Regions from separate parts of the Homo sapiens genome. Here region 1 is linked to region 2. The links come from fine-mapping of genetic effects on gene expression. A gene starts in region 2. The other region holds a variant in brackets. All regions are shown on one strand. Distances are between the middles of the regions. Region 1 holds the start of IL17RC (interleukin 17 receptor C). Region 2 holds the start of JAGN1 (jagunal vesicle mediated transporter 1).

Region 1 (8,409 bases), 27 kb before region 2:
AGAAGGCATAGGACAGCAAGGGTCAAGGGAGGGCCAGCCACCCCAGGGAGCCACAGTCTCCACCTCAATGAAGGGTTTGAAGAATGGTGAGACCAGGAAGGCAGGGATCACCCCCATCATCATCTTCCCACTCCTCTTCTGGCACCCAGCTAGACTCTGCTCCTACCTGAATACAGAGGCAGGGAACCAGGTCTGTGTGGTTCAAGGTAATGATCTGCGGTCCAGTCTGTGGAACAAATAAAGGAAGGAGGTTGGAGAAGATAAGGAGGAAGAGGAGGAGGCCAAAGTCAAGGAAACCAGGAAGGCAGAAGTTCCCCCACCAATTTTCCCTTGCTTGGGGTGAGTCCTCTTCAAGGATCCTCTCTGATATGGCACTGCGTCCTTTGCACAGGCATCGGCCTACAGTGGGAATGGACTTGGGAAGGGGGAGGCCTCACCAGGTTTTTGTGCCACCGGGGTTTTGGGGGGCCCTGGACCTGATTCCAGTACAGGGAGAGGCCGAAGTGCTGCTCCTCAGAGACATTCAGAACCAGATGCACGTTGTCACCATCTGCTGACACGTTGAGCCAGGGCAGGGCTGGTGGGAGAGGCAAAGAGAGCGCAGCTTAGACTTCCTCACCTCTTCTGCATCCCCGACTGACCCTTTGGAGTTTCCTTCAAACCCCCTAGACTGGGAGGCTCTCGGAGGGCAGAGCGTGTGTCATCATTTCAGACCAGACTTTGCTCCTAGCAGCTGCCCAAAGCCAAGCCCGTGGAGACCCTAGTGTGTGGTCGGAGAAGAGCTATTCTCCCTGCTTCTCCCTCTGCAGAAAGATCTTGTAACCTCTTTAAAACAAGTCATTTTCCTCTGTTCAGAACTGTGACCTTTCTGACCTTACCTCTTGATACTTGTGTCCTTTTTTTTTTTTGAGAGGGAGTCTTGCTCTGTTGCCCAGGCTGGAGTGCATTGGCACGATAGCTCACTGCAACCTCCACCTCCTGGGTTCAAGCGATTCTCTTGCCTCAGCCACCCGAGTAGCTGGGATTACAGGCGTGTGTCACCACCCCCGGCTAGTTTTTGTATTTTTAGTAGAGATGGGATTTCGCTCATGTTGGCCAGGCTGGTCTTGAGCTCCTAACCTCAAGCAATCCTCCTGCCTCAGCTTCCCCAAAGTGCTGGGATTGCAGACGTGAGCCATCGCGCACAGCCTATGGCATTTGTGTCCTTAATAACTCTGCTGCAGAGTTATTAAGGACCTCCTTACTGTTTCTCTCTCTTTTTTTTTTCCTTTTTTTTTTTTTGAGATGGAGTCTGGCTCTGTCGCCCAGGCTGGAGTGCAGTGGTGTGATCTCGGCTCACTGCAAGCTCTGCCTCCTGGGGTTCAAGCCATTCTCCTGCCTCAGGCTCCCGAGTAGCTGGGACTACAGGCGCCTGCCACCATGCCCAGCTGATTTTTTTGTATTTTTTGTAGAGATGGGGTTTCACCGTGTTAGCCAGGATGGTCTCGATCTCCTGACCTCGTGATCCGCCAGCCTCGGCCTCCCAAAGTGCTGGGATTACAGGCGTGAGCCACCGCGCCCGGCCCCCTCCTTACTATTTCTTAAACACCCCTGACATACTCCCACCCCAGGCCCTTTTTGCTGGCTATTCTCTCTTCCCTCAAATATATGGCTCCTCCCTCACCTCTTTCAGGTCTCTGCTCACCAGAATGAGACCATCCCTGACCTCTACAACTCCCAACCTTCCCCAGCCCTTCCACAAATGTTCTCCTTAGTGCTAATCACTGTCTAACTTACTGCATTCTTCACATCTCCATGTGTTTGTTGTGTCCTTCCTCACCCCCACCCTGACCCTGACACCAGCTCCGTGGGGTCGGGTTTTTTGTCATCTTCATTTATTGATTTATTAATATTTCCAGTGTCCAGGGATTTGCCTGGTACACAGAAATTAATAAATATCTGTTGAATAAATGAATCAATGTCTACTTAATGAAGGAAGAAATGAAATCCATGATATACACATCTGTGTTTTCAAAACTCTGGTGTTGAATAGTCTTTAATGAGTTGCCAAAGAGGCAGGCCAACTTTAATTTTAAGAAGGCAAAAAGAAAATGAAGTTGAAAACATTTAGTAGTTCAGAAAACATCACAGTATGTGATGTATTCACAGTATTTATGTATTGATCTGGGTGCTAGTTATGCAAGTGTATACATATATAAAAACAAATTGGCCGGACGTGGCGGCTCATGCCTGTAATCCCAGCACTTTGGGAGGCCGAGGTGGGAGGATCACGAGGTCAGGAGTTCAAGACCAGCCTGGCCAGCATGGTGAAACTCCATGTCTACTAAAAATACAAAAATTAGCTGTGCGTGGTGGTGCACGTCTGTAATCCCAGCTGCTTGGGAGGCTGAGGCAGGAGAATCGCTTGAACCCAGAAGGCAGAGGTTGCAGTGAGCTGAGATCACACCACTGCAGTCCAGCCTAGGCGACAGAGCAAGATTCCGCCAAAAAAAAAAAAAAAAAAAAGAACTGGACATGGAAATCAGTACCCTTTGGCTGGGCGTGGTGGCTCACGCCTGTAATCCCAGCACTTTGGGAGGCTGAGGCAGGCGGATCACAAGGTCAGGAGATCAAGACCATCCTGGCTAACACGGTGAAACCCTGTCTCTACTAAAAAAAAAAAAAAATTAGCCAGGCGTGGTGGCGGGTGCCTGTAGTCCCAGCTACTCGGGAGGCTGAGGCAGGAGAATGGCGTGAACCTGGGAGGCGGAGCTTGCAGTGAGCCGAGATTGCACCACTGCACTCCAGCCTGAGCGACAGAGCGAGACTCTGTCTCAAAAAAAAAAAAAAAAAAGAAAATCAGTACCCTTTACATACTTTTATGTATGTATGTTATACACAATAAAAAAGAAAATACAAAACGAAAACAAAATCCAAATAGTACGTGGGAAAAAAGTTAGACCCTTGACTTTCTTAGCTTTTATTTCAAGTTTTTTGTTTTTGTTTTGTTTTGTTTTGTTTTTTGAGACGGAGTCTTGCTCTGTCACCCAGGCTGGTGTGCAATGGTGCAGTCTCAGCTTACTGTAGCCCCTGCCTCCCAGGCTCAAGTGATTCTCCTGCCTCAGCCTCCTGAGTAGCTGGGACCACAAATGCACACCACCATGTCCTGTTAATTTTTGTATTTTTGGTAGAGACGGGGATTTGCCATGTTGCCCAGGCTCGTCTTGAACTTTTGAGCTCAAGTGATCCTTCTACCTCGGCCTCCCAAAGTTCTGGGATTACAGGCATGAGCCACTGAGCCTGACCCAAGATTCATCTTTCTATTTCCAGTGCTTAGCACAGATACTGCAATTAATGTGTTATGAACAAATGAATGAATGAATGAATGAATGAATATGTTCTGTGAGCTTCTGAGATGTGGTAGCCCATATCTGAAGTGGACTCCAAGGGTTTCTTATACTCCAGACCCTGCCCCTCCCTACCCCCGGCCCACTGGCCCTAGCCCCTACCCCAGCAGCTCGGGATGCTGTTCCAGACTTCGAGCCCCCTGCAGTCTGAGGAGAGATCACAGAAGAGCCTCCAGTGGGGCTGGGGGCCAAGGAAAGAAGTGGGGGCAATTTGGCTCCCAGGGGGGCATTAGGAATGGCTCCCCATCCCCTACATACCACCCACATCTATCCAATGCTCAAAGAACCTTCCCCAGGGGCTGGAAAGCCATATCACCCAGAGAGAGAAGGTCCGAGGGACTGACTCTGGGGAGGATAGCAGCTCAGACCCCTGCCGGAGAGTGGATGGAGCTAGAAGAGGGTGAAATCAGGAGGGGGAATGGCCAGAGGGGACAGAGGCTAGGGGGCCAGGACTTGGGGGTCCACTTACCAGGCAGCTGCTGTGTGTGGTTGAGTTCCTTCTCGTACCTGGGCTGAGTATAGGACCAGATTCGTACCTCACTCCCTAGGGCAGCCTCGAAGCAGTCATATACCACAGAGCCCTGTGAGGAGAGGGGTGAGGAAGGCTGGCGGTGCAGGGCTCAGAATCCAGGCCAAGGGCTGTGGGATCATCTGCAGGGACCACTCTGCTCACTGCCCTCCTCCCCCAACTAATGACTGTATTTATACTGTATAGCCTGAAATCTACTATTCACCTTTCTTTCAAGGGGCCTCAATTCTAAAGCAAATGTCCTCAGTAAGAGTGTCACCAGGGCGGGAAAAG[GC/C]CCTAGACATTTAAATCCCTGCACCCACCCTGCTGTGCTAGATCACCTGGCCAAAGCTAAGGAGATGAGACACCCCAACACAATATGGCACACCCCTCCCCACAGAAGTGGTTCTCACACTCAACCCAGTGCCTCAGTGTTCCTTACAACTGCTTGTGACATGGACCAAGCAGATGTTCTCCCAGTCTACAATTCTCCAGATAGGATATTGGCTGGGGGCTGGAGGTTGGAGGGAAAGTCAAAGGGTTTGAGTGATTTGACCCCAGTGGAAATAGACCTTCCAGGTACATGTGGCCTCCTAAGGCAGGGAGAAGCCCCAACACCCTGCACCATGGTACTTACACCATGGTAAGTATACCATGGTATGTATGGTAGGACTCTTTCTTTGGTCCAAGAGTACAGAGAAGTGCATCCAGCCCACAGACCTCCCCTCTCCAAGCCTCATTTTATCTATCTGGAAAATGAGGATACTAATAATGCCTCATCAGGTAGTTTTGAGGATTACAAAAGAATTAAATTTATTGAAATTATTCAGTGCCAGGCATTACATCCAGTGTTTTACAGGTACCAACTTAATTTAATTCTCACAACAGTCATGTGAGGTGGGACTATTCTTTTTTTTTGAGACGGAATCTCGCTCTGTCGCCCAGGCTGGAGTGCAGTGGCGCGATCTCGGCTCACTGCAAGCTCCACCTCCCGGGTTCACGCCATTCTCCTGCCTCTGCCTCCCGAGTAGCTGGGTCTACAGGCGCCCACCACCATGCCTGGCTAATTTTTTGTATTTTTTTAGTGGAGGCAGGGTTTCACAGTGTTAGCCAGGATGGTCTCAATCTCCTGACTTCGTGATCTGCCCGCCTCAGCCTCCCAAAGTGCTGGGATTACAGGTGTGAACCACTGTGCCCGGCCAGAACTATTGTTTTTTTATGTGGCAAAAACAAAAACAAAAACAAAAACAAAAAAACTTTAAGAGATATTTCACAAGGAAGTTACACAAATAGCCAATAAGCATGTGAAAAAAGTGCTCAACTTCATCAGTCATTGGAAGATACAAATTAAAACCACAATGGCAAACCACTACATATGCAGAAAAATTATGACAATTACAACACTTATGCTTGTTTTGGCACCACATATACTACAACTGGAACAATACAGAAAAGATTAGCAAGGCCCGTGCCTGAGGATGACATGCAAATTCATGGAGGGTCCCATATATTTAAAATTCAAATATATTTAATTTAAAAATAAAATAAAATTACACCATCAAGTGTTGGCAAAGATGGGAAGCAACTAGGACTCCCATACACTGCTGGTAGGAGGGGAAAATAGTAGAAGCACCCTGAAAAACGCTTGGTGATTTCTCGCAGTCAAGCATATGAAGTAGAACTATTCTCATCCCCATTTTACAGACATAAAAGCTGAGGCATAACAGGCTGAAGGGACTTGCCCACAGCGCTGATCAGAATCAAAAGAATAGTCCCACCTCACATGGCTGTTGTGAGAATTAAATAAGTTGATACCTGTAAAACACTGGCTGTAATGCCTGGTACTGAAGGGTTTCAATAAATTTAATTCTTTTGTAATCCTCAAAGAGATAATGCATGTGAAAAAGTTTTATAGATTTTAGGTTTAGAAGGTGATTATTATTATTTTGCATACCACAGACTGACCAAACTGCACAAGGGCAGCAGGCACTTGCACCTCCAGCAGGACGCAGCGGGCAGTAGGGTAGGCCTGGAAGGAGAGCACGACTTGGGCCTGGAGAGAGGCTGTGGGCAACAGGGCAGGGGTCAGTCAGGCCCAGGAGCGGCAGGCCAGGCCTTGGCATGGGGCAGTTGGGCCAGCCAGGTTCTCCTCACCATTCCTAGGCTCCTCCACCCCTGAGTCAGCTGCTCCTCCAAACTTTTCCTCATCTTCAGGCTCTTCCCAGTGCCCTAGAAGGACCCAAGAGCAAGGCCCTGGGTGAGGCCCCCTGCTCTGGGCTGGCTGGCTTTGGCGTTGGCTTCCTTCTGGAAAGCCCAGTGCTGGGAAGCAGGGGCTGGGGAGACCACACTGGCCTGGGGGTCCTTCTGCTGGTGTCCTCCAGGAGAACACTGAGGATGCCTAGCACTGCTTGAGAGATCCCCTGGCCCTCATGCCCACCCCAGACACACTCACGTGTACACATGCACTGTCACAGGATGACTTGCTCACCATGCACGGCCAAGTGGACAGCCACACGCAGACAGAGGTCACAGTCGGTCTCCTTCTGGCACCTCAGCACCAGCTCTGTCTGCAGGTGCGTAGGCGCCAGCACGGGGCCCGGAGCAGGCACGATGTCCCCAGGCAGGCAGAGTATGTCACTGTCTGTGTGTGGAGGAGCGGGTGGGAGCTGAAGCTGTTCCAAGCCCAGAATTTGGTGGCACCTGACATACCCAGAGAGCCAAAGAACTTGGCTGTCCTAGGCTGAGGTGGGCATGGAGGGCATGGGCCTGGGACAGCTCTGCTCCCTTCGGCCAACCTGGGAAATTCTTTTTAAAAGTAGGGATACTTACCCCAGAGGCGGCAGGAGAGGCCCTGGGAAGGAAAGAAAGGAGAGTCAGAATTTGTGCCCCCACCATCTAGGCACTGTTCTCTGCCTAAGACCTCCACCTACCTTTTTCTGGGGCTCCGTATTCCCAGACCCTCCCAGAGAAAGACAGACCCAGCTCTTGCCCCTTCCCCGTTCTTCTCTTCTACCATCAGCACCAGACAGACCAGACAGGGCAGTTCTGGCAGTGGCAGCAGTGACAGGAGCCAGGCTAAGGCTTTGCTGAGCCAAAAACTGAACCCTGAGCCTTTCCTCGTCTCCCCAGGGTTCCAGACTCACCGGAGAGCAGTGGGTAGCGTCCTGAGGCCCCACAAGCCTCTCCAGAGAAAGGACCACTGGGCTTCGGCCCAGTGCCAAGGACAGCAAGAACCAGGGCACAGGCATCTTCTAGGTGCCAGGTGGCACCCAGGCCTGAGGCCCTGTGCTGCCCCCCCCCAAGGGGGGCAGACACCCCAGTCAGCCCGTGTCTGTGGGTGGCAGGGGCTGGAATCCCTCTTCAGCCTCCAGAGGGGGCGGAGGGGGCTGTGCTGGGTAGTTTGTGCACTCTCTGTCCTGGGAGTCCTGACTCTCCTCCTACTTCCAGCACGGAGTGCTTTCGTTTTGGCTCCCGGCAGGCTGCTGGCTGTTCCCGCCCCTCTCTGTCCCTCCCACCAACACCAGGCTTGGGAGCCAGCAGCCTTGGACTAGGGTGGTGGCCGCACCTCCTCCTTCTTTGGCTCTCCTCTCCCTCTGCTGACACCTGGCTGGGAGGGGCCCCTGAAGAAGACAGCGAATGCATCACGGCTGAGTAAGGGAGCTCTTACTCACCCCCGGAGCCCTAAGGAGGACACAGCCCTGGAGTCCTGGGCCCACTAAGTCTCCCCTTACTAGGCACACTCGGTCCCTTCAGACACTCTTTGGGCCTCGGTAACCCTTTGTGGGACAGGAGCTCTAAAAGCACGGACAAAAGGCACCAGAAAGTGGGCTTTTCACCACTGCCTGGCTCAAATGCGGTATGGGGAGTAGAAGGAACCCAGGACCCCAGAGCCTGGCAGACAGGGGTCCCATCTGTGCTGTTGCTGTGGGCCGGCTGTGTGATGATGGACACACCATCTGGCGAAGCCTCTGTTTTCCTCTCCTCTTGTAAGAATCACTGGGGGGGATCAAGGAGATTGCCCCATCCTCCTTTGCTTTTGGAGGCATTGCTTGTAAGAATGTGACGGATGCCATGCGGTATGGACACAGAGGATTTGGGCCAGCACACTGACACATACCCCACCAGGCAGGCTCCCCAGCCACACTAGAGAAGCACACTGTGTTTTCTTAGTTTGTCATGTTTGTCTTTATTCATCTTTCCGGATCTTGGTCCCCACCGCCAGCACCCACCCACCCCACCCCCAACCCCCACTGTCCTGACCACCTGGAGCCAAAAGCCTCTTTTCCTAGGTCCAGAGTCCTCTCTCCCTCTGGCCAGAGCCTCAGAGTGGGAAAGGGAATCCCTGGCCCCCAAGGAGGTTTTCTCTCAGCCGCCCCCTGCAATCCCCCACCGCCTCACCCTCCTTCAGAACTGACATGGCTCCTGCCTCCCTACCCCGGCCCCAACCTCTCCAGCCTGGACTGAAGCATAAGCACACTGCTCTTTCTGGAGTTCTGGAGAGGAAGTGGGAAGACC
Region 2 (13,525 bases):
ATTCTACCTAACTCACAGTGGTTTAGAGCTATATAAATATGAGGTTTCTTTCTTTTCTTTTTTTTTTTTTGAGACAGAGTCTCACTCTATCACCCAAGCTGGAGGACAATGGCGCAATCACCACTTACTGCAGCCTCAACCTCCTGGACTCAAGTGAATCCTCCCTTCACAGGCACACACCATTTTGCCTGGCTACATATAGGGTCTGGCTATGGTGCTCAAGCTGGTCTCAAACTCCTGGCCTCTAGCAGTTATCCTGCCTCAGCTTCCCAAGGTGCTAGGATTACAGGTGTGAGCCACTGTGTCTGGCCAATAATGAGTTTTCTTTTTTTTTTTTTGAGACGGAGTCTTGCTCTGTTGCCCAGGCTGGAGTGCAGTGGTGCGATCTCGGCTCACTGCAAGCTCCGCCTCCCAGGTTCACGCCATTCTCTTGCCTCAGCCTCCCGAGCAGCTGGGACTACAGGCACCCGCCACCTCACCCGGCTAATTTTTTGCGTTTTTAGTAGAGAGGGGGTTTCACCGTGTTAGCCAGGATGGTCTCAATCTGCTGACCTTGTGATCCGCCCACCTCGGCCTCCCAAAGTGCTGGGATTACAGGCGTGAGCCACTGCGCCCGGCCCAAATAATGAGTTTTCTAATGCTGGAGGCATGAAGTGAGAAACTTGGTTCTATTCCAAAACAATCCTTCTTCTTTACCCTTATCTTCTGATCTCTCACAGAGAAAATATTGGTTAATTGCTTCTGGTTAAGGTATGGGAGGAGAAGCAGAAAAGAAATGGAGATAAGAAGGAAGAGAGGAAGGGAAAAAAAGGAAGGAAGGAAAGAAGGGAGGGAGGGAAGAAAGGAGGGAGGGAGAGAAGGCAGCAGGGAGGGAAGGAGGAAGGGAGGAAAGAAGGGAGGGAGGGAGGAAGGGACGGAGGAAGAGAGGAAGGGAGGGAAGGAGGATGGGAGGAGAGAAGAGAGGGAAAGAGGGAAGAAAGGGAAGAAAAACAGCATTCCAGGACCCGCTGGAAAAGTAAAAGGAATAAAGGTGAGGAAGAAAGGGGGAAAAAGAAAAGGACGTGTGCATTTTATTTATTGTCTTGCTGGTTTACTTATTTATTGTAGAGACTGTTCCAAAAAGTATTTAAGGTAAGAAGCACAGGGGTGAATTCTGGCACAACCTAAGGAAGGGGAGGGATGGGATCAACATTTGCTGAAATCCTACTATCAGGCTCTGAGTCATGCATTTTGCCCAGTTTATTTTATTTGTACTACAACCCTTGAGTTCACAGTCTTATTACCCCATTTTACAGACTGCAAAACACTCAGGAAGATTAGGTAAAGTCCAAGCACACACACCTAAGAGCTGAAGTCAGCCCCTCACTTGCTGATCTCTCTCCTACGCTTACGCTCTGAGTTCCTCCCCACCCTTGCCCTCACCCCACATTGCCCCCTCCTATTTGGTGCCTGGCCAGCTCAGGCAGCTTGCGTCACAGTAAAGTAAAGCCAGAATGAGTTTTAGGTCTGAGTGAGATTGGAAAAGCCATTCCTCTGACCCTCCCCACCTGCTCCCGTCTCTCCAGGCATCCTACCTGCAAGAGGACACTGTGAGGGGCAAAAAATGTCCCTTCCAGAGCTGGCAGGAAGCCTGTGAGTGCTGCTGACATGCACCTTGTGCACACACATCCCCTTTCTCTGTCTCATACACACACATGCACACACACACAATCACACTTCACACCTGAGCTGGGGGAAGCCCCCAGAAGGCATGCAGGTACTCTCCCTGGAGTCAGAGGGGGAAAAGGGCTGCCAAGTCTACCAGTCCGCTTGCCAATAGATCAGAGCGCTAAACACCGCAGCACTGTGAGAACTTCAGAAATATGAGGCCTAGGAGATGGTGTCCTAAGAGGATGGGCCAGAAGACCTGGGTTCCCCTCCCTGCCAATTTTTCCTCTCTGAGCCTCGCTTTTCTCCTCTGGAGACTCACCGCTATGTCTTCCTGGCCTTTTCTGCCAGAACACACTACTTGGGGAGATCAGAGGGTTTCTGGACCCTGTAGTTCACAGAAGTTACTAAACTTAGCAGTGTGATACAATTGGCAGGGTTAACAATGTAAAGAAAGAAATGAAAGTGTTGGAAAGAAAGGAAAGTAGATCTTATAATAATGTTACCAGTGGTTAGACTTGTAGGAGAGTTGGGATTGTTTGGCAAGTGTCAACAAGGGAGGAGTAACTGTGGCTGGAATAGGAGGTGGCCAATTGGAGTAAAGCAACAAAGGTGTGTTGTAGGGCTTCAGCACAGAGGCCCTGTCTTCTTGGCAGGTGGCTAAGGCCTGTCTCATCTGTGGTTTGTGTCAAAATGAGCTGACCAAGACTTCATGATTAATGATTAATAGCCTTTACTTGGGAACAAAGCCAGGAGCTCAGGAAGTCCTGGCAGGCCCCTGCACATGCTTAGAGTGCACTGTAGGGACCTTGGGCAGCCATTTTTCTTGTCACCGCCTTATCTGTGCATGAACTCTGGTCAGACCATGGAACAGTAGCTCCAGGTTCTTCCTGTAATGGCCAATTCCTAACGTCTACTGGGGCAACTCTGCTCACTGATAGGGAACCCTGGGCAGGAAGGCCCACCAATTAGATCAATGTACACCAACAGTGGGCGAGTATCCCTTCTTTACATCTGCTCTTCCAGAAGGATCAACCTCCAGAATTCTGAGGCAAGAAATTATTGCTGAGAGGTAGAGACTCCCAATCTCAGCGAGGAAGCCAACACTGCTCAACAAGGGAAGGCATTCTGTTACTTATTAAACCCCTACTATGTAGCCTGTCCATACATATTATCTAAGCCTCCCAACAATCCTGGGGGTAGCTAAAATGATGCCCATGTGTCAGATCAAGAACAGAGGCTCAGGTATCTTGCACAAGGCAAAAGTTAGTAAAATGCCTGGCTGGAATTCCCACCTATGTCTGTCTAATGTAAGAAACTGTTGGCTGGGCATGGTGGCTCATGCCTGTAATCCTAGCACTTTGGGAGGCCGAGGTGGGTAGATCACTTGAGGTCAGGAGTTCGAGACCTGGCCAACATGGTGAAACCCTGTCTCTACAAAAATACAAAAATTAACCGGGTGTGAGCAAAGGTTGCAGTGAGCTGAGATTGCACCACTGCACTGCAGCCTAGGCGACAGAGTGAGTCTCAAAAACAAAACAAAACAAAACAAAACAAAAAACACTGTTCATTCCATTATACCACATTGCCTTTCTCATGGCCTGGATTATCTCTAATAGTCCCTTCAACTCCTACATTCTCTCCTCCTGTAAAGATCAGGAAATAACCATCTTTCATATTTATATAATGATACATAGTTCATAAAGCAGTTTCACAATATTTCAACTTTTTTTTTTTTTGAGACAGAGTCTCATTGTGTCACTCAGGCTGGAGTGCAGTGGCGCGATCTCGGCTCACCACAACCTTAGCCTCCTGGGTTCAAGCGATTCTCCTGCCCCAGCCTCCCAAGTTTAGTACCTTCTGTGAACACACTGCTAAGTTTAGTACCTTCTGTGAACTACAGGGTCCAGAAACCCTCTGATCTCCCCAAGTAGTGTGTTCTGGCAGAAGAGGCCAGGAAGACATAGCGGTGAGTCTCCAGAGGAGAAAAGCGAGGCTCAGAGAGGAATAATTGGCAGGGAGGGGAACCCAGGTCTTCTGGCCCATCCTCTTAGGACACCATCCCAAGTAGCTGGAAGTACAGGCACCCACCACCATGCCCATTTGTATTTTTAGTGGAGACGGGGTTTCACCATGTTGGCTAGACTGGTCTCAAACTCCTGACCTCAGGTGATTCGCCTGCCTCGGCCTCCCAAAGTGCTGAGATTACAGGTATGAGCCACTGCGCCCAGCCACATTATTTGATCTTTAGAACAATCTGTGAAATAGGGAGGGTTGATTTTAGTCCTATAATTGGTAGGTGCATTGGTACTTGAACATATCTTCTGATTCAAATAATGTTCTTTCTACTAAATCAAGATTCAACAAGGGAATCTTGTTTGCTTCTGGAACACTACAACCATGAGGCAGGAAAAGGTGATAGGAAAGGTCCACAAAAGCAAAATTCCGACAACCTAACAAGCAGAAAACTAACATAAACCAAATGGTTTTGGTTTGTTTACATTGTTGACAATAATTTTCATAATGGGTCTTTGATAGTACTCTAAGTCCATAAAGTGCCATTCCAATAACCAAAGAAATTTCAAACTATTTGCATCCCAATTCTTTAAAAACGAGCAATCTGTGTCTGGTGCACATACTAACTCCATTATCCATACATTTCCATCTACTACTGCTCTCCAAATTTTCTCTCTACTTCAGTTTGGTTCTATCCTCTGTGAAATACACCCCGACTTTAGTTTACAATAATCCTGTCAATAATTCCATGTGAGGCTGGGCACAGTAACTCACATCTGTAATCCCAGCACTTTGGGAGGCCAAAGCAGGATGATCATCTGAGGTCAGGAGTTCAAGACCAGTCTGGCCAACATAGTGAGACCCTGTCTCTATTAAGAATACAAAAATTAGCCAGGCATAGTGTCACATGCCTGTAATCCCAGCTACTCAGGAGGCTGAGTCAGGAGAATCGCTTGAACCTGGGAGGGAAAGCTGCAATGAGCCCAGATCGAGCCACTGCACTTCAGCCTAGGGAACAGGGCAAGACTCTGTTTAAAAAAAAAAAAAATTAGGCCGGGCGCGGCGGCAGGCGCCTGTAATCCCAGCTACTAGGGAGGCTGAGGCAAGAGAATCGCTTGAACCCGGGAGGCGGAGGTTGTAGTGAGCCAAGATCATGCCACTGCACTCCAGCCTGGGCGACAGAGTAAGACCTTGTCTCAAAAAAAATAAAAATAAAAAAAATAAATAAAAAGAATTGCATGTTTTTCACACCTCCTGTGCAGCACCTAAAAGCAGTAAAATAAGAACTCAGAGAAGGAATTCATGTTCCTTGAATTGAAGGAACCAGAAAGCTCAAGAATTGCCATATTAACTGGGCCTTAAAGGATAATTAATAAAGCAGTATAAAAATAGAAAAGGGAAATTTTTAAGCAAAGGAAACTGGGAAACCACGAAACCTACATGGGGATCCATAAGAGGTTTAGTTGACTAAGACAGCATGAGACTAGGGGTATTGGGAGATAATGCAGGACTGGTGGATTGGGACCACTTTGGAAACCTCAGAGCTTAAGGCATTTAAGTTGCAACAAAGATCATAGTAGGGACTTAATGATCATGGAACAGATAATCCAGAGCTGTACTCTTGGTATATACTCACTTGAACAAAGGGATGCAGGAAGAGGAATGGGTATGAGGCAGAAACACAAAGGTCTGTTTGGGACATACTTATTTTGAGATGATAATTAGGACATCTAGAGGAAGAGGTTTTAGAGTTGTAAGTACTGCCAGCCAGGCGCGATGGCTCACACCTGTAACACAAGCACTTTGAGAGGCTGAGGCAGGAGAATCACTTGAGCCTGGTAGGTAGAGGCGAGCCAAGATGGCGCTACTGCATTCCAGCCTGGGTGAGGGAAATGAAACACTGCCTTTAAAAAAAAAAAAAAAAAAAAAAAAAAAGGCCAGGCACGGTGGCTTACGCCTGTAATCCCAGCACTTTGGGAGGTTGAGGAGGGCGGATCATGAGGTCAGGAGATCGAGAGCATCCTAGCTAACACGATGAAACCCCGTCTCTACTAAAAATACAAAAATTAGCCGGGCGTGGTGGTGGGCACCTGTAGTCCCAGCTACTTGGGAGGTTGAGGCAGAATGGTGTGAACCCGGGAGGCAGAGCTTGCAGTGAGCCGAGATCGTGCCACTGCACTCCAGCCTGGGCGACAGAGCAAGACTCCGTCTCAATTAAAAAAAAAAAAAAAAAAAAAGTGACTCAGTAATGACTAACTACATACACAATGTTTCTAGAACAAAATAATGACTACATCTCTGGAGAGGGCAGAGCTCTGCAGTTACAGATCTGGGCATCATCCAGAGACAATAAAATCAAGTGCAAAGAGACACATTATCTTTCATGCAATAAATACTGCCAGAATTTTAGGTGTGAAAGGGCCTTTAGTTTAATCACAGATCTCTTCCTTCCTGTTTTTAATGTACTTGCTCCACATCATTAGATATTATGTTCACTGTTTCACATGAATAACAAGTTTCTACTGAATTGTAAATCCCTATAAACCGAGGTACTTTAAAATTCTTTTGGATGCCATTATACAGTAGTAGACTCATAACTGATACCCAGTTAACACTGAAAGATAAATGTGAATATCCAACTAAAAGAAGAGCCCATAACCTAAGGTAGATAAATGAGAATGGACTATTTCATAGATGGAGAGATTAAATGTCTGGCCCATAGTTCTTACCAATCAGCTGTAGGTTACAACTATGACTTAGGTTCCCCATACCCAGTCTACTTCTCTATGGCCACTGCTAGGTTTCTCAAGGAGCTTCTACCCATCATCTCCTAGTGTCTAAGGCCACACCTTTCAAGCAACACACCTTTCACACTCTATCAAGCCCCAAACACAAGGCACAGTGTGGGCAGGGCCATCTTTATTGAGGTTTTTAATTAAAATGCTTTGCAGAGGAGACCACAGCCTGCCAAGGGAGCAGCTGCCCAAATGTTTCCTGACCCGTGACCTAGAGATGAAGTAATTTGATTTATTCCCTATTTCCTTTAGTCTCAATGGCTAAGGGGTAATGGATGGAAATGGGGAGAATGACCGAGTAGAGGCAAGGACGAAGCTCATTCTTAAAGAAAAACCTCAAAGTTCAACTTCAAACAGCTGAAATTTGTTTCATAGCTGTTGGTCACCCAGTTCTAGCCAACCAGGAATAAATTATAGTTTTGCCACCTCAGCAGATGGCAAAAGGAGCTTTCCAGAACTTTGGCCTGGTCTGCACCAGGTACCAACATCACAGCTGCTAAAATCACCAGAAGGGATTTTGGAACCGCTGTACTAGTGTCCTTTCATTCGATGGGATGTCCAGGCTTCACCCCAAAGAGGCTTCATTTATGCTTCTTCTCCTGTGTGCTGGTGAACCAAGAGTCTAGGAGCTTCTTGCTGTAGTACAACTGCCAGGCATGCACTTGCACTGCCAACACCAACACCAGGTACATGATGGAAACGGCAGAAAAACCAAAGAGGAAACGGTAGGCCTTGCCATGGCGGTAGAGCTGCTGTGCAGCAGGGAACATCTCCATGCTGCCATAAATGAGTGGAGCGATGGAAAAGAGTCCCATGCTGATCATGGAGAGCACCAGGTAGCTAATGTTGTTGCGGGGAAAGGAGAGAAGGCCCAAGAGAGAGGGCAAAATGCTCAGCAAATACGGGTATTCCCACTGATAGGGCATGGCCACCTGATCATGTGACAAGAGCCTCAGGTGTCCCACGCTCATCTTAGCAACCAGCAGCAGCCATATGACCAGATGTACGTAGATCAGCTTCTTGATTTCATACTTGAGAGTCACACTGTGGGGCAGAGCAGAGGGAGAAGTATCTTTCAAATTTTTCTTACCACCAACTATATGCCAGACAACTGTACTGGACACTGGGATACAAATTTGAATAAAACAGCCTAGAAGCCGGACACAAAGAACAGAGGAGGAAAAAGTAATTAGAAAATGAAGTGAAAAAGTTCTAGTAAATATATGTTCCCAGATATATGGGATCACAGGAAGGAGGAATCAACTCTGCCTGGCATGGAATGTCAGAGATGGCTATCTAGAGGCAGGTGATATCTGAACTAGGCTCAGGAATGAGTGAAGATGGGCATCCCATGCAGGAGCATGCAGACAAAAAGGCCCAAGTATTTGTGTTCCAGGAAAGCAAGTGGTTATGTGTGGCAGGAACATATTGTTAGGGGGAGAGGGGTAGTGGGATATGAATCACAAAGACTATGAGAGTTAAAAGTAGAAGAGGCTGGGCTCACAACTCTAATCCAAGCACTTTGGTAGGCTGAAGCAGGAGGACTGCTTGAGCCCAGGAGTTCGAGACCAGCCTGGCAACAAAATGAGACCCCATCTCCATAAAAAAAAAAAACAACAACAATACTACTAATAAAAAGGCAGGGCTGGGCGCGGTGGCTCACGCCTGTAATCCCAGCACTTTGGGAGGCCGAGGCGGGCAGATCACGAGGTCAGGAGATCGAGACCATCCTGGCTGACACGGTGAAACCCTGTCTCTACTAAAAATACAAAAAAATTAGCAGCACGTGGTGGCGGGCGCCTGTAGTCCCAGCTACTCGGGAGGCTGAGGCTGAGAATGGCGTGAACCCGGGAGGCGGAGCTTACAAGTGAGCTGAGATCGCGCCACTGCACTCCAGCCTGGGCGACAGACCGTGACTCCGTCTCAAAAATAAATAAATAAATTAATAATAATAATAAAGGCAGAAGGGTAGCTCAGAGCTGTGTTTAGCAAGAGGACGCTGACTGCACCATAGGATTAAAGTCTGGCGGGAGAAGGTATTGGCAGAGAGGAAACGTACTCAGGCCGCCCATACTTCTCCAGCTAGATTTTTTCATCCAAAAGAAGTACATACTTATCTTATTCTTCTAATTCTCTCACGTCCCAAACGTATCCTCCTCATATCCCTAAAGGCAATGTTTCTACTCTGGGCTGGCATGAAAACACCTGCTTAAGTTGTGAGGGCCCTTTCAGCCGGGGCCTAGAGATGTGAAACAAATGAGAGTTCAAAGAGCTTGTCATTCTTTAAAACTCTGGAGAGAGAGATGTGAAGAACATTCTGGGAGAGATCAATGGATTTAAGGAAGTAAAAATTTTAAAATTTTTATTTAAAAATATTTATTGTAGAAAATGTGGAAAGGTTGGAAAAAAAAAACAGTCATCTCTAGACTTCAAGCTCCATGAAGGCAGGGAACAGTTTTTTTTTTCTTTAATAAAATTGTTTATTGAAGGTATAACATGTATACAAAGACCACGTCTGCTTTTGCTCACTATTATAACCTAGTGTCTAGCAGTGTATGATGTTTGGAAGCTCAGTATTTGTCGAACTAGTAATTGAATGTAGAAATACCCCTTACGTGGGAGTGTTTATAAAATTCATTTTAGGCAAGGCGTCCTTAGGAAAGGCTGCCTTTTACTGTCTATATCCCCCCAAACGGCCCAAAATATAACACCTACCATATATTACGTGGTAGGCCTTATGCTACTTTCTTTACACGAATTACTGATTAATCTTTCACCAAAACCTAAAAGGCAGATTATTCTCTCCCTCTACAGATGAGGAAGCTGAGGCTCAAATTAGAAATTCGGTTTCGAAGGTGATACAGCGGGGCCAGCATCGACGTGACTCGGGAGCCCACGCAGGGCGGGAGCCCACGCGGGGCTGGATCCCCTCAAGGCACCGGGCGGAACAAGGGGTGGAGCTCGCGGGGGCCACGGGGCTTTCCAGGATGGGGGACAGGCCCGAAGCCGTCACGGGAGGAGGGGACTTGGCAGGTGAGCGGGGGCTGGCTGGGGAGCAAGACCCTGAGGCCGGGCCGGCGTCGCTCCCCAAGCCCCGCAGGCTCCAGCGGGGGAGAAAGCCTCCGTGCTCCTCGCCTCACTTCATACCTCATCTGGTAGTGCATGGCGACGCGCTCCCGGTGCTGAAAGTCGCTGCCGTCGGTGCCGGCCGCTCGCGGGCCTGCTCGAGACGCCATTGTGCCTGCCCAGAACCCCCGAACCCCTCACGCGGACCTGGTACCGCAACGACACCGCCAAGCGGCCCACTGACCCTATTTGCGCCCCCGCAGCCGCGCGGCTCCGTGAAGAGAACTTCCGGCCCCTCTGTCTCTGGAGGACCGACTCTATGGTCACTCCTCTCCGCGCAGGCGCCCTCGTTCCCTCTCGCCCCCGCCCCGCCCAGCCCCGCCTCTTGTGGAGCGCGCAGGAAATTAATCCCCAGCCTCTTTTGCTGGCGCCCAGAGGCCGCTTGAACACTTTTACTTTCTTAAGCTGTAATATCAGTTAGGATACTTCTGTCCACACTTTACAGAGGGGGAAACTGATATATTCTATGACTTTCCCTGGAGCACACATCATTCACACAGCCTCACACCTTTAATCCCAGCACTTTGGGAGGCCGAGGTGGGTGGATCACTTGATGTCAGGAGTTCAAGACCAGCCTGGGCAACATGGTGAAATCCCGTCTCTACTAAAAATACAAAAATTAGCCAGGTGTGGTGGGTTCCTGTGACCCCAGCTACTTGGGTGGCTGAGGCAGGAGAATCGCTTGAACCAGGGAGGCAGAGGTTGCAGTAAGTCGAGATTGTGCCAATGCACTCCAGCCTGGGGGACAGAGTGCAGAGTGAGACTTTGTCTCAAAATAAGTTTCTCACATTTAATTATTGCAAAGAGAAACAGGGAATCTCTCAGTGAGGAAATCTGGCTTGTCTCCCTTAAACATATAGTCAGTTAATTTGATCAATAATGAGATAAACTGATATCTTGTGCCTCTTTTAATAGACTGAGGACACAGCATCACTTCTATGATGTTTCTGCCAAAAATACCTAACTGAATCTAATCATGAAGAAATGACATAAATCCAGACGGAGGGACAGTCTAGAAGAGAGCTGGACTGTACTCTTCAAAAATGTCAAGGCCATGAAAGAAAAATTATTTCCAAATAAACTTTATCTGTAGAGACAAAGTAGAATGACCATTGCCAGAAGCTCGAGGGGTGGACAGAGAATGGGGAGCTAGTGTTTAATGGGTACAGAGCTTCAGTTCGGGAAGATGAAAAAAGTTCTGGAGATGGATGGTGGTACTGATTGCACAACTATATGTGTGTGCTTAATGCCACGGAAACTGTACACTTAAAAATGATTAACATAGTAAGTTTTATGTTATGTGCATTTTACCACAACAAAATACTAAGCGAAACTTTAAAGAAAGAAGTTATATTATCCGAATAAAGAAAAAAAGAAAGAAAAAAGCATGTATAGTGAGCATCTTCCATGCACCAGGATGCTCTGCTATGACCTGGGGACGCAGAAATAAACATGGTCCATTTCCCCTGAGGGATCCCAGCCCAGTCGGGGGAAGAACTTGTACCCATGAAGCTAAGAAATTCAAGAAAACACAGGAGGCTGAGGGAGGAAAAATGAGGCCTCTCTCCCTGACCTGGAGGGTTAGGAAAGTCTCTCTGGAGTGGCAGCAATTGAGCTGAGGTCTGAAGCCTGAGTGGGAATTGGCTAAAGAGGTGGGGAGCGGAAGAGCTTTTCAGGCAGAGGGAACAGCATGTGTGAAGGCCCCAAATCCAGAGAGCACTTGGCTCTTCAAAGAACTGAGAAACTTAAGAGTGACTGGAGCATTTGGAGGGTTCAGTAAAGAGTTAAGTCTTTATCCCAGGGGGTTTGGGGAACCACTAAAAGGTTTAACCAGGAAAATGACACAGTTTTGCATTTTTAAAAGATAGGTCTAGGTGGGGGCACAGTGCCTCAAGCCTGTAATCTCAGCACTTTGGGAGGCCAAGGCAGGAGATCAGCCTGGGCAACATAGTGAGACTCCCGTCTCTACAAAAATAAAAAATAAAATAATATTAACTGGCATGGTGGTGCGTGCCTGTAGTCCAGGCTACTCGGGAGGATGAGGTGGGAGAATCATTTGAGACCAGGAGTTCAAGGTTACAGTGAGCCATGATTATGCCACTGCATTCCATTCTGGGCAACAGAGTAAGACACTGTCTGTAAATAAATAAATAAAGATAGATCTAGTTGCTGTGTAGAGAATGGCTTGCAGGGGCCAAGGGTGAAGCAGAGGAATCACTTGAAGGCTACTGCAGTAATTCAGGCAATCCTAGGGGTGGCTTGGGCTAGGAGGTGGCAATGGACAGAGAGGAACAGATTTGAGTTCCTTGGGATTTAACATCTGTAGGTGGGTAACAAGAGCACATATGACCAGCAAGGGGCTCACACTAGGAAGGGAGTCTGTGTGGCTGGGATCTGAGAAAGGCAAGCAAGAAATCAGCAACATTGGCCGGGCACGGCTCACACCTGTAATCCCAGCACTTTGGGAGGCCGAGGCAGTGGATCACTTGAGGTCAGGAGTTCAAGACTAGCCTGGTCAACATGGTGAAACCCTGTCTCTACCAAAAGAAATACAAACATTATCAGGGTGTGGTAGCGCATGCCTGTAGTCCCAGCTACTTGGGAAGCCGAGGCAGGAGAATCCCTTGAACCCGGGAGGCGAAGGTTGCAGTGACCTGAGATCACACCACTGCACTCCAGCCTGAGCAACAGAGTGAGACCCTGTCTCAAATTTTAAAAAAATAAGAAAAAAGGCTGGGTGCAGTGGCTCACGCCTGTAATCCCAACACTTTGGGAGGCTGAGGCGGGCAGATCACAAGGTCAGGAGATCGAGACCAGCCTGGCTAACACGGTGAAACCCCGTCTCTACTAAAAATACAAAAAATTAGCCAGGCGTGGTGGTACGTGCCTGTAGTCCCAGCTACTCGGGAGGCTGAGGCAGGAGAATCGCTTGAACCTGGGGGACGGAGGTTGCAGTGAGCAGAGATCATACTGTTGCACTCCAGCCTGGGCGACAGAGTGAGAGAAAAGAAATCAGCAACATTTATTGAGTACCTACTCTATGCCAGGCATATTCACACACGTGAACTCATTCTCTTTTTCCAATACCCTTGGAGATAATTACTTTTGTTATCATTATCTTACACAAGGGAAAATTAAGGCTCAGAAAGGGGAAGTGACTTGCCCAGGATCACGCAGCAATTGCACTATAAGAACTCAGACCAAAGTGGCCCTAGGGCTGCAGGATTTTTACTACCAGATCTGTTACTGTCCTGTTTAAGGGATGACGGTTCAGGACCCACTGAGGGATAACTAAGAGGGTTCGGGACCTCTGGGGAAATGGGCCAGGAATATTTGTCACCTCCCCCCAGGCTCTCTAGAATGTCTTTCTTTGCCCTGTGGAAATCCTGGTGACACTTTGGGACCCATCTTACTGCACCAAGGATCACCTGCTTCCACATTAGTTCTCATCGTTTTTGCTGTCTGTGAAGCCTGGTCTAGAACCATCTGTGATAGACTCATCCAAGATGCTTGTTAAAAACACAGATTTCTGGGCCCCACCCTTACCCAAATGAATCATTCCCCAAAGTTGGGCCTAAGAATATCTTTTTAATTTAAAATGTTGACTAGGTAATGCATTTACATGGTTCAAAAGCCAAACAATAAGCTGGCTGCGGCGGCATGTACCTGTAGTCCCAGCTACTCATGAGGCTGAGGTGGGAAGATTGCTTGAGTTCAGGAGTTTGAGGCCAGCCTGGGCAACATGATGAGACCCTGAGCATGGTGGCTCATGCCTATAATCCCAGCACTTTGGGAGGCTGAGGCAGGAGGATTGCTTGAGTCCAGGAACTCGAGATCAGCCTCGGCGACATAGCAAGAACCTATCTCTAAAAATAAAATTAGCCAGGCAGGATGGCATATGTCTGTAGTCTCAGCTACTCAGGAGGCTGAGATGGAGGATC

The links. PIP is the estimated chance that this variant, and not a neighbour inherited with it, causes the effect.
Region 1: its variant is fine-mapped to the expression of JAGN1 in whole blood (INTERVAL, PIP 0.96).

What each region holds. Positions count from the first base shown.
Region 1 is chr3:9,916,049-9,924,457 of GRCh38, reverse strand. It overlaps IL17RC (interleukin 17 receptor C), which reads right to left and starts at 7,360. Exons shown (of 19, transcript NM_153460.4): 1 at 7,038-7,360; 2 at 6,724-6,745; 3 at 6,383-6,535; 4 at 6,049-6,123; 5 at 5,849-5,958; 6 at 3,856-3,967; 7 at 3,489-3,533; 8 at 438-577; 9 at 167-226. The coding sequence starts at 7,142. It overlaps IL17RE (interleukin 17 receptor E), which reads right to left. Exons shown (of 16, transcript NM_153480.2): 16 at 8,061-8,409. It also overlaps the pseudogene RNU6-882P. RefSeq lists enhancers at 7,449-7,638, 7,568-8,107. The variant GC/C (reference allele first, on the strand shown) is at 4,189.
Region 2 is chr3:9,886,892-9,900,416 of GRCh38, reverse strand. JAGN1 (jagunal vesicle mediated transporter 1) reads right to left here and starts at 9,807. Exons shown (of 2, transcript NM_032492.4): 1 at 9,606-9,807; 2 at 6,068-7,502. The coding sequence starts at 9,694. The coding sequence ends at 7,040. RefSeq lists an enhancer at 2,218-2,512 and a silencer at 2,218-2,512.